Linked DNA regions of Homo sapiens: region 1 is linked to region 2. The links come from fine-mapping of genetic effects on gene expression. A gene starts in region 2. The other region holds a variant in brackets. All regions are shown on one strand. Distances are from middle to middle.

Region 1 (5,240 bases), 20 kb before region 2:
CGGGACTCCGTCTCAAAAAAAAAAATTAATTAAATTAAATTTAAAAAAAAATCACCACAGCAAACAACCACCCTCAATTAAAAGGTCTCCTGCTGGGCTGATGTAGTCTCTGGGACATGGGGCCTCTCTAGTAGGGAATCTGTGGGACTCTAAACCATGGAATAGCTTGAACAAGGTTAACTCTGTAGAACAATAGTTTGAACTTATTAACATGTTTTCTTTGCCCACTTTTTTTGTGAAAGAAAGGGCAAAGTTACATCTTCAGTGCTGGGTTCAGCTTCCTGTTTGCCCATGTAGGGTGCAAGGGCTATGAAGGGCTGTTTGTGCTGCCTATTTTCTTGCTCAAGTGATCCTCAGTAAGATAGAGGAGACTCTTGAGGAAGTTAAGAAAAGGAGTTAAGGACAGCCCTGGTAACAAGTTGAGGTGTTCCTCGTTTGCTTTAGGAACATACTGGCTTGGTCTATGCTCTCTGAATTTACCTTTGGATTGATTCTTTTAAAAGTAATCTTTTCTGTCTGGGTGCAGTGGTGCATACCTGTAATCCCAGCACTTTGGGAGGCTGAAAATGGAGGATCACTTGAGCCCAGGATCACTCGAGGCCAGCCTGGGCAACAGAGCAAGACCCCATCTCTACAAAAAAAAATTTTTTTTTTTTTAATTAGCTGGGCTTGGTGATGTGCGCCTGTAATCCTGGCTACTCAGGAGGCTGAGGTGGAAGTATCACTTGAGCCCAGGAATTGAAGGCTACAGTGAGCTATTAACATGCCACTATACTCCAGCCTGGGGGAAAGAGTGACCTTTCTGAAGGGCCTCTTTTCATTCCTCCTCTCCGTCCCAACAGAAATAGGGGAACTAAATTTTAAAAATTCTAAAAATCTGGGAGGCCGAGGTAGGCGTATCACCAGATGTCAGGAGTTTGAGACCAGCCTGGACAACATGATGAAACTCTGTCTCTACTGAAAATACAAAAATTAGCCAAGCATGGTGGCGTGTGCCTATAATCCCAGCTACTCAGGAGGCTGAGGCATGAGAATCACTTGAACACGGGAGCCAGAGATCACGCCACTGCACTTCAGCCTGGGCGACAGAATGAGACTCCATCTCAAAAAAAAAAAAAAAAAAAAAAATTCTAAAAAGCCTTCAGCCCTATAGAACTCTCACCCCAGGCAGGTAGCAATTTTTTGCACAGAGAGCAGTGCAGTAGTTACTAGAAAAGGTGCCTCTGGTCTTTTGACAAAAGGACAGGTGCAGCCTTGCTCCAGGATTAGTTTATTTCTGTGTGTAATCTTCTAAGTCTGCAAAGCACTTTTATATCCACTGTAATTTAGTTATCATGGGACTATTCTGTGAGGTGTGTGGTGAGTATTAGAGCCATTTTATAGAGCAGGAAACTTAGGCTTAATTTGATTATCTCAATTTGTTTTCAAAATCTAGTACAGAAAAATTAATTTCCTTGCCTCAGGCCGTATTCCTAGTTAGTAACCTGATTGGTCATCTTATTTCAAAGTTGGTGTATGGCCTGGCATGGTGGCTTACGCCTGTAATCCCAGTGCTTTGAGAGGCCGAGGCAGGCAGATCACCTGAGGTCAGGAGTTTGAGACCAGCGTGGCCAACATGGTGAAACCCCGTCTCTACTAAAAATACAAAAAAAATTAGCCAAGCATGGTGGTGCATGCCTGTAATCCCAGCTACTCAGGAGGCTAAGGCAGGAGAATCACTTGAATCCAGAAGGCTGAGGTTGCGGTGAGCTGAGATTGTGCCATTGCACTCCAGTCTGGGCAACAAGAGTGAAACTGTCTCAAAAAAAATAAAGAAAAGGAAAAAGAAAACTCACAAAGTTGGTGTGGAACTTTTATTGCAACTTAACAATCTTCTCACAGATGTATTTTTTATTTGAGGAAAAAAGAAACTACCTGTACACACAGAAAAGCATAAACTAGCTAAACTATTTTCTCTCTCTCTCTTTTTTTTTTTTTTTTTTTTTTTTTTTTTTTGACAGAGTCTTGCTCATTTGCCCAGGCTGGAGTGCAGTGGCACAATCTTGGCTCACTGCAACCTCTGCCTCCAAGGTTTAAGCCATTCTCCCACCTCAGTCTCCTGAGTAGCTGGGATTACAGCTGCCTGCCCATACCACGCCTGGCTAATTTTTGTATTTTTAGTAGAGAAGGGTTTCACCATGTTGGCCAGGCTGGTCTTGAACTCCTGACCTCAGGTGATCCACCGCCTCAGCTTCCCAAAGTGCTGGGATTACAGGCATGAGCCACCGCGCCCAGCCAAACTAATTATTTTCTTTTGACACTCTTAGAAACTTTGCAAGTTTCCATTTCTGCTAATGAGTAGTCTTCTGTCAGCTTCTTTGTAGATAATCTTTGTGCTTTTTCCAGGAGGGTCAGAAGTACCGTTATGAAAGGCTGCCCTCTGCCTGTGGTCTTTCCCAGATTAGAGAGGTTGAAGTGCTGTCGAAAGACCAGGTGCAGGAGAGATCTTACCAGCAGTGTTAAGTAATTGCTCA[G/A]TTTCCTCATTTGTTTTCCTTGGGGTCACTCAAAAATATTGATAACCGCCCTGCTCTGGAGCCCAGATGATGGGAAAGAGTCTGTCTTCAAGGAATGCTAGTGAAGCTATGGATGAAAAAAAGCAGTTAAACCTCCTGCTGTCTCCATAGTGGTAACTCCTTCCAAACTGTTTGGGGACTTTTACAGCTTTCTTATGTCAAACTGCCCTAAGAGACTGAGATGAAGAGAGAGAGGTTGAGTCACTGTAATTCCTTCTTGTTAATATAAAAGAGGGAGGGGTAACAGTTACATAAGGTTCTCTTTTTTGCTTTGCAGAATGCATCTTGTCTTGTTCTTGCAGCCCGGCATGCCAGTGCTTCCTCCACGGTAAGGTTTGGAAAAGAAGACTAAGAATAAGAATCATTGCGGCCAGCCTGACCTTGGGGCAGAGGATTTGGCAACCACCTGGCCTCTTATTATCCTGAGTATTTCCTGGAAGTGTTTGTTACTATTGTTATTGTTATAGCTGCTATTATTATTATATTACTATTTAACAAATAATTTACTCAGTGGTATAGTGAGATGGGAATATCAATACATTTGCCTAATTCTTTTAAATGTTTTAAGTAGTGTAAAATATACATAACATAAAATTTACCATTTTAATCATTTTTAAGTATATGGTTTAGTGGCAGTAGATATGTTTACATTATTGTGCAACCATCCATCTCCAGAACTTTTGTCTGCCCAAACCGAGAAACTGTTCCCATTAAACATTAACTCCTCATTCCTTCTTCCCCCTGCCTAATTCTTTTACCCTCATTTGTGCAGAGTAGTTGACCAGACTTCCCTGGCAGATAAAGCCAGCTTCTAAAAAGCAAATTCTTGACACACCTACTTTGCAGGAAATCTAATAAACTTTTAGACCATTGCTTAGTCCTTCTACTTTTCTTTTTAGAATTTGAAAGACATATTGGCTGACCTGATACCTAAGGAGCAGGCCAGAATTAAGACTTTCAGGCAGCAACATGGCAAGACGGTGGTGGGCCAAATCACTGTGGACATGGTAAGGGTTGTGTGGCTTTGGCTGGGAAAAGTAGCTCTGTAATGTGCTTCAACAAAAGTAACATTCTCTCCACTGACTATTCAAAAGCATTCTGTCCCATAGGCCCTGTAGGACAGCTTTAGGATGACTTTTCCCCATCCTTCAGATTCTGAGCAGCTCAGCTGATAGTTTCTCAACAGTTTTTAGCTTATTGGTCTCCATCCCCTTCTCCTAGACTAGAACTCATTCTGTTTGTTTTGATTGGTTGGAATTTGAGGGTAGGGTATGTTGGGGAGTGGTTGAGTGGGCAGGAGAAAAAAAGTGAAATACAATAAGAAAAGGAATCAAACAGAGGGCGCAATGGCTCATGCCTATTATCCCAACATTTTGGGAGGCTGCAGTTGGAGAATCACTTGAGGCCAGGAGTTAACAACCAGCTTGATCAACAAAGGAAGATACAATCTCTATGAAAGAAAAATTTAAAAAATTAGCCAGAGATGGTGGGATGCCCCTGTAGTCCCAGCTACTGGGGAGGCAAAGGCAGGAGGATTGCTTGAGCCCAGGAGTTCAGGGCTGCAGTGAGCCATGATTATGCCACTGTAGTATAGCCTGGGCAACAGAGGGAGACCCTATCTCCAAAACAAACAAAAAGAAAGATAGTGATTTCTCAACTTAAAAAATTTCATTTCCAGGCCTGTTGCAGTGGCTCATGCCTGTAATCCCAGCACTTTGGGAGGCTGAGGCGGGTGGCTCATCTGAGGTCAGGAGTTCGAGACCAGCCTGGCCAACATGGTAAAACTCCGTCTCTACTAAAAAATATAAAAATTAGCTGGGCATGGTGGCAGGCAACTGTAATCCCAGCTACTCAGGAGCCTGAGGCAGGAGAATCACTTAAACCCAGGAGGCAGAGGTTGCAGTGAGCTGAGATTGCACCATTGCACTCCAGCCTGGGCAAGAGTGAGACTCCATCTGGGGGGAAAAAAAAAAAGATCAGCCTTGGCAACATGGCTGGCAAAACCCTGTTTTTTTTTTTTTTTTTGGGACGGAGTCTCACTGAGTCACCAGGCTGGAGTACAGTGACGTGATCTCGGCTCACTACAACCTCCGCCTCCCGGGTTCAAGCGATTCTTCTGCCTCAGCCTCCTGAGTAGCTGGGATTACAGGCCCGCACCACCACGCCCAGCTGATTTTTGTATTTTTAGTAGAGACAGGGTTTCACCATGTTGGCCAGGATGTCTCGATATCCTGACGTCGTGATCTGCCCGCCTTGGCCTCCCAAAGTGCTGGGATTACAGGCGTGAGCCACTGCACCCGGCCTAAACCCCATTTCTTTAAAAAAAAAAAAAAGAAATACAAAAATTAGCCAGACATGGTGGCACGTGCCTATAATCCCAGCTACTCAGGAGGCTGAAGTGGGTGGATCACCTGAGCCTGCAAGTCAAGGCTGCAGTAAGCCGTGATTGTGCCACTGTGCTGCAGCCTGAGTGACAGACTCTGTGAGAGGCTTAGTGATCTTCCCTCCTCCTCAGCCTCCCAAAGTGCTGGGATTACAGGCATGAGCCCCACCGTACCTGGCCACAAAGTTTGTTTTTTTTTTTCTTTTTTTTTTTTTTTTTTGAGATGGAGTTTTGCTCTTGTCACCCAGGCTGAAGTGCAATGGTGTGATCTTGGCTCACTGCAATCTCTGCCTTCTGGGTTCAAG
Region 2 (5,484 bases):
ACTTTCATATGAAACTGCTAAAAACAAAAAATCTTGTCAATCCCTCCCATACAGGCCTCACCTTGACCATGTGAGGTTTGACCATGGAAACTGCAGAGGTGTAACGTTCCATGACAGGTGGAAAGCCAACCTCCAGCTGGGCTTTCAAATGACCCTTACGGCTGGATACCACCAGAGACTTCTTACACCAGGGCACAAACTCACGATACTCCTGGACGTTGGACACCACCTCATACATCTCCTGCATTGAGTACCTAGGAGAAGAAGAATCACAGGCCAAGGAGCTGCCAGCTGGGTCAGGTTCCTCCTTGCTATAGGCCCCTAATTCATACCTTTGCCCACTAACCACGCACCTTCAGGAACTACAGATCCCAAATAAGCCTGGATGAATAACTTCCCAAAAGCAAACGTGTAAATCCTTATGATACTGTTACCTTATATTTTGCAGTTTACAGAATGCTTTTGCATTCATTGTTTATTTTGATTTTAAGAGGGACCATCTAGGGAGAACAGAGGCTGTCAGTTTTACTGGTGATCACACAAGGATCAGATCCCAGCTCTTAACAATTTTTTAACAATGTGGCCTTAGGTAAATTACCTGTGTCTCCATTTTCTCACCTGATTTATAGGTTTGTTGTGAGAATTAAATGAGAAATATCTATGTAAAACATCTAAGTCAAGCTGCTAGCATGTAGCAAGTGCTCGATAATTTAGCTATTATGCTCAAAATATACTAAAAAGGTTACGCTGCTAATTTACACATACTAGGTACCCATAAAAATTATTTTTAAATGGTCACCAGAAAAATACACCCTGTTTTTTGTTTTGTTTTTTGAGACAGTCTTGCTCTGTCGCCCAGGCTGGAGTGCAGTGGGGCAATCTCAGCTCACTGCAACCTCTGCCTCCCAGGTTCCAGCGATTATCCTGCCTCAGCCTCCCAAATAGCTGGGATTAAAGGCGCCCGCCACCGTGCCAGGCTGATTCTTGTGTGTGTGTTTTTTTTTAGTGGAGACAGGGTTTCACCATGTTGGCCAGGCTGGTCTCGAACTCCTGACCTAAAACGATCGGCCCGCCTCAGCCTCCCAAAGTCCTGGGATTACAGGCGTGAGCCACCGCACCCAGCTACGCCCTGTTGTCTTAAAGTATAGTCCAACCCTAGTCTCATTTCACTTAAGCACATGCACAGCAACCAAGAAGGGAGAAATTAAGGTCGGAAGAGTGGCAGGGGAGGACTGAGGATCAGTATTGTAGCTGGGGAGGGGGATGGCTAGGGATGAATCTTGCCCACCGATGATACCCTGACATTCTTGCCTGGACAGGGTTATTTGGAGGGAAAAGGGAGGTGCAAGGATGCAAGGCAGAGAATGCTTACCCCATGATTCTACGCTCCGAGTAAGCCTTTCGCTTGTTGGTGAAGGGAGCAGCAAATCCCATGAAGGAACGGCTCGAAGGTAAGCCAGCCTCAGCCGCCAAGATCTGGGCAGCCCGAGGCAAGAGGAGGCTGCAGGAGGTCAGAAACCTAAGGCCAAAGGAAAGAGGAGCCAACCGTATAGTTCTTCGTAATCCTCTATCATTTGTAGGTGAAGGAGAAGAAGAGTGCATCCCAGACGAAGGTCGTCCAAACAAGCTTTCCCCCCAGCACCTGCTGCAGCCCGCTAGGCTCTCTCTGGCCAGGGAGTCACGAGTGCAAAAGGTCGAGGGCAGCTAAGGACAGGGCTGGGGGCGGGGTGAGGGGGATGAGAAAAAGGGGTGTGTGGGAAGCGCCAGTTGCCTTTGACTGGGCCTACACTACTGCTGAAAGCTAAGACTTTAAGGAAGCATCACTGTCCCCGGGGACCCCAGGGCGCCCGCGAGGGCCAAGAAGAGGTTGGACACTCACCCCGAGAACTTCCCTTCTCGTACAACTTGCAAAAGCATTATCCAAAGCTCTACGTTAGCTCCCAGGGCATGATTGCTGCCAGTCCCCGCCGCGCCTGCATCCCAGTATAGCACCCCTCCACCGCGGAACCCCGGGGTTCGCAGCGACCCCCTGCCCTCAGCCGCGGTCACCTCCCTCTCACCTCATTGGTCGCGGCGGTGGCAGAGGGCCTGGGGGCGGGGCCGGTTGCGCGCCCGGGCTGAGCGAGAGCCGGCAGCAGCGCTCGGCTGCCGCGCGCGTCCCAGCTGGGACCCGCCGCGAGCCCGCCCAGGCCATGCGCGCGACCCTGCCTGGCCCTCTAAGTTCTGACGCGGGCTGCGCCCTCCTCACTCCAAAGGCGGAGCGGCAAGAGGCAGCGGCTGGGCTGGTTCGGGACCTCTGAGCGCAGGGGCGACGGGAGGCGGCAGCACCTCTCGCCTTGCTCCCGTCCAGGCTGCCGGGTAGGCTAGAACTGAAGCCGGGACCGCTGCTCCCGCAGATCTCGGTACCCCCACGTCACGCTGTTGCCATGGCTCGGGCCTGGGAGAGGAAGGAAGGAAGGAAGGGGACAACGCCGCCTGTCGGGAGATGTAGTTTCACACCTGTGGCGAGAAAGGGCACTGGGGTGTGCGTTTGAGAAGCTGCAAAGATGGTTCGGGGACTGAGGTCGCCTGTGGTCACAGGACCCGATAGGTAGGCACAGAGGCGACTTCGTGGGCGTGTCTACCGCAGATATCTGTAGATCCTCTGAACGTCGCTGTTAGAGCCTTAGGTTCTCTAGAGGGACATAGTGAATAGGATAAATGTATATATGAAAGGGAGTTTATTAAGAATTGCCTCACAGGATCACAAGGTAAAGTCTCACATTAGGCCGTCTGCAAGTTGAGGAGCAAGGAGGCCAGTGGTGGATCAGTCCAAGGCCCAAAACCTCAAAAGTAGGGAAGCCGGCAGTGCAGCCTTCAGTCTGTGGCCAAAGCCCCGAGAGCCCTTGGCAAACCACTGGTGTAAGTCCAAGAGTCCAAAAGCTGAAGAACTTGGAGTCTGATGTTCGAGGGCAGGAAGCATCCAGCATGAGAGAAAGACGAAGGCCGGAAGACTTCAGCAAGTCAGCTTCTTCCACCTACTTTTACTTTTATTTATTTATTTATTTATTTATTTATTTATTTATTTATTTGAGACGGAGTCTCGCTCTGTTGCCCAGACTGGAGTGCAGTGGCACGATCTCAGCTCACTGCAACCTTGGCCTCCCAGGTTCAAGCGATCCTCCTGCCTCACCACCCCCGCCCCGCCCCCCTCCCCAGTACCTGGGATTACAGGCATGCGCCACCATGCCCAGCTAATTTTTGTATTTTTAGTAGAGATGGGGTTTCGCCATGTTGGCCAGGCTGGTCTCGAACTCCTGACCTCAGGTGATCCACCCGTCTCGGCTTCCCAAAGTGCTGGGATTACAGGTGTTAGCCACCATGCCTAGCCCTGCCTACTTTTTCTAGCGTCGCTGGCAGCGGATTGGATGGTGCCCACCATTGAGACTGGGTCACTTCCTTCCAGTCCACTGACTTAAATGTTAATCTCCTTTGGCAACACCCTCACAGACACTCAGGAACAACACTTTGCCTCCTTCAATCCAATCAAGTTGACACTCAATCATCACAGAGCCTTTATCATATTCGGCCTTGTTTATAGTTAGAAGCACTGTTCATCTTTGTAGCTTCCACAAGTGGTTAGTGCTGTGTTCTACATTTTTGGGAAAGGAGATTAACATTCCAAGCTCTGGGCTAAGACTGCATAGTTTTTACCTTTAATATTTATAGAAAGAAGTCGAGGTAGGAAGAACCAGATATTCTTAGGACAGAGAACCATCTTTGTTTGAAAAGTGTGCGCTTGATGAAGAGTGAGACCTCATGGACAGAAACCCACGCAATTAAATACCACTATACTACTTTTCATGATTCAAGGAGAAAAAAAAAATGCTCTTGGCTAGGCATGGTGGCTCACGTCTGTAATCCCAGCACTTTGGGAGGCTGAGGCGGGCAGATCACTTGAGGTCAGGAGTTCAAGACCAGCCTGGCCAACATAGTGAGACCTTATCTCTACTAAAAATACAAAAATTAGCCAGGTATGGTGGCGGGCGCCTCTAATCCCAGCTACTCGGGAGGCTGAGGCAGGAGAATCGCTTGAACCCAGGAGGCGGAAGTTGGAGTGAGCTGAGATTGTGCCACTGCACTCCAGCCTGAGCAACAGAGCAAGACTCCATCTCAAAAAAAAAAAAAAAAAAAAAAGGAAAGAAAGAAAAGAAAAGAAAGCAAGCGAGCAAGAAAGAGAAAAAATGCTCTTGATAAAAGTCAGGTGGGCCAGGTGCGGTGGCTCATGCCTGTAATCTCAGCACTTTGGGAGGCCGAGGTGGGTGGATCACGAGGTCAGGAGATCGAGACCATCCTGGCTAACAGGGTGAAACTGCATCTCTACTAAAAATACAAAAAATTAGCCGGGCGTGGTGGTGGGTACCTGTAGTCCCAGCTACTCAGGAGGCCGAGGCAGGAGAATGGCATGAACCCGGGGAGCGGAGCTTGCAGTGAGCCAAGATCGCACCACTGCACTCCAGCCTGGGCAGCAGTGCAAGACTCCATCTCAAAAAAAAAAAAAAAAAAAAGTCAGGCAAACAAAAGAAAAAAAGGAAGGGAAGAAAGAAATCAACAATTAGAAAGAGATTGGGCTAAGTGCAGTGGCTCATGCCTGTAATCCCAGCACTTTGGGAGGCTGAGGTGGGAGGATCACTTGAGGCCAGGAGTTCAAGACCAGCCTGGGCAACATAGTGAGAACTTGTCTCTCCAAAAATAAAAAAGAAAAAAAAAAGAGAGACTAGAACTAGGTGGGTGCAAGAGAATGGTGGTGCCTGCTGTTGAGTTTTAAGAAATTCATGCTATTACAGTACAAGCCTTTCCTCTGCTTGCTTTCTAAATCTTCAGTCAAGCTCTCCACTTTCAGGAAATCTTTCCCTGAGAAGTGTTGTGTGTGGTGGTTATGCAGAGGGGCAGGGGATAAAGTAAATAAAGACTGTGTTGTAGCCAGGCATGGTGGCTCATATCTGTAATTGCAGCACTTTGGGAGGTGAAGGTTGGTGGATCACCCGAGCCCGGGAGTTTGAGACCAGCCTGGGCAATATGGTGAAACCTTGTCTCTACAAAAAATACAAAAAAATTTAGCCAGGCATGGTGGCACATGCCTGTAATCCCAGCTACTTGGGAGTCTGAGTTGGATCACCTGGGCCCAGGAGGTTGAGGCTGCAGTGAGCCGTGATTGCACCACTGCACTCCAGTCTGTGTGACGGGAGTGAGACCCTGTCTCAGAAAAACAAAAACAAAAACAAAAAAAGACTGTGTTGCAATTCTTGTCCAACTAATCTGGAAGAGACATCTGGTCTAGAAACAGGGTAGCTCTTGGGCCGGGCACGGTGGCTCACACCTGTAATCCCAGCACTTTGGGAGGCCAAGGCAGGCGGATCATGAGGTCAGGAGATCAAAACCATCCTGGCCAACGTGGCAAAAACCCATTTCTACAAAAAATACAAAACATGTCCGGGCGCAGTG

The links. PIP is the estimated chance that this variant, and not a neighbour inherited with it, causes the effect.
Region 1: its variant is the best candidate, but not a certain one, in a credible set for the expression of COQ10A in nasal epithelium (TOPMed, PIP 0.87).

Annotation. Positions count from the first base shown.
Region 1 is chr12:56,284,235-56,289,474 of GRCh38, reverse strand. CS (citrate synthase) reads left to right here. Exons shown (of 11, transcript NM_004077.3): 2 at 2,830-2,880; 3 at 3,452-3,559. Among named protein-coding and RNA genes, the nearest start is that of CS, 13 kb to the left of the region's middle. The variant G/A (reference allele first, on the strand shown) is at 2,514.
Region 2 is chr12:56,263,829-56,269,312 of GRCh38, reverse strand. It overlaps COQ10A (coenzyme Q10A), which reads right to left and starts at 2,371. Exons shown (of 5, transcript NM_144576.4): 1 at 2,061-2,371; 2 at 1,373-1,519; 3 at 62-254. The coding sequence starts at 2,194. RefSeq lists enhancers at 1,589-1,658, 2,108-2,277, 1,801-2,300, 2,369-2,478, 5,125-5,294, a cis regulatory region at 2,192 and a silencer at 1,939-2,268.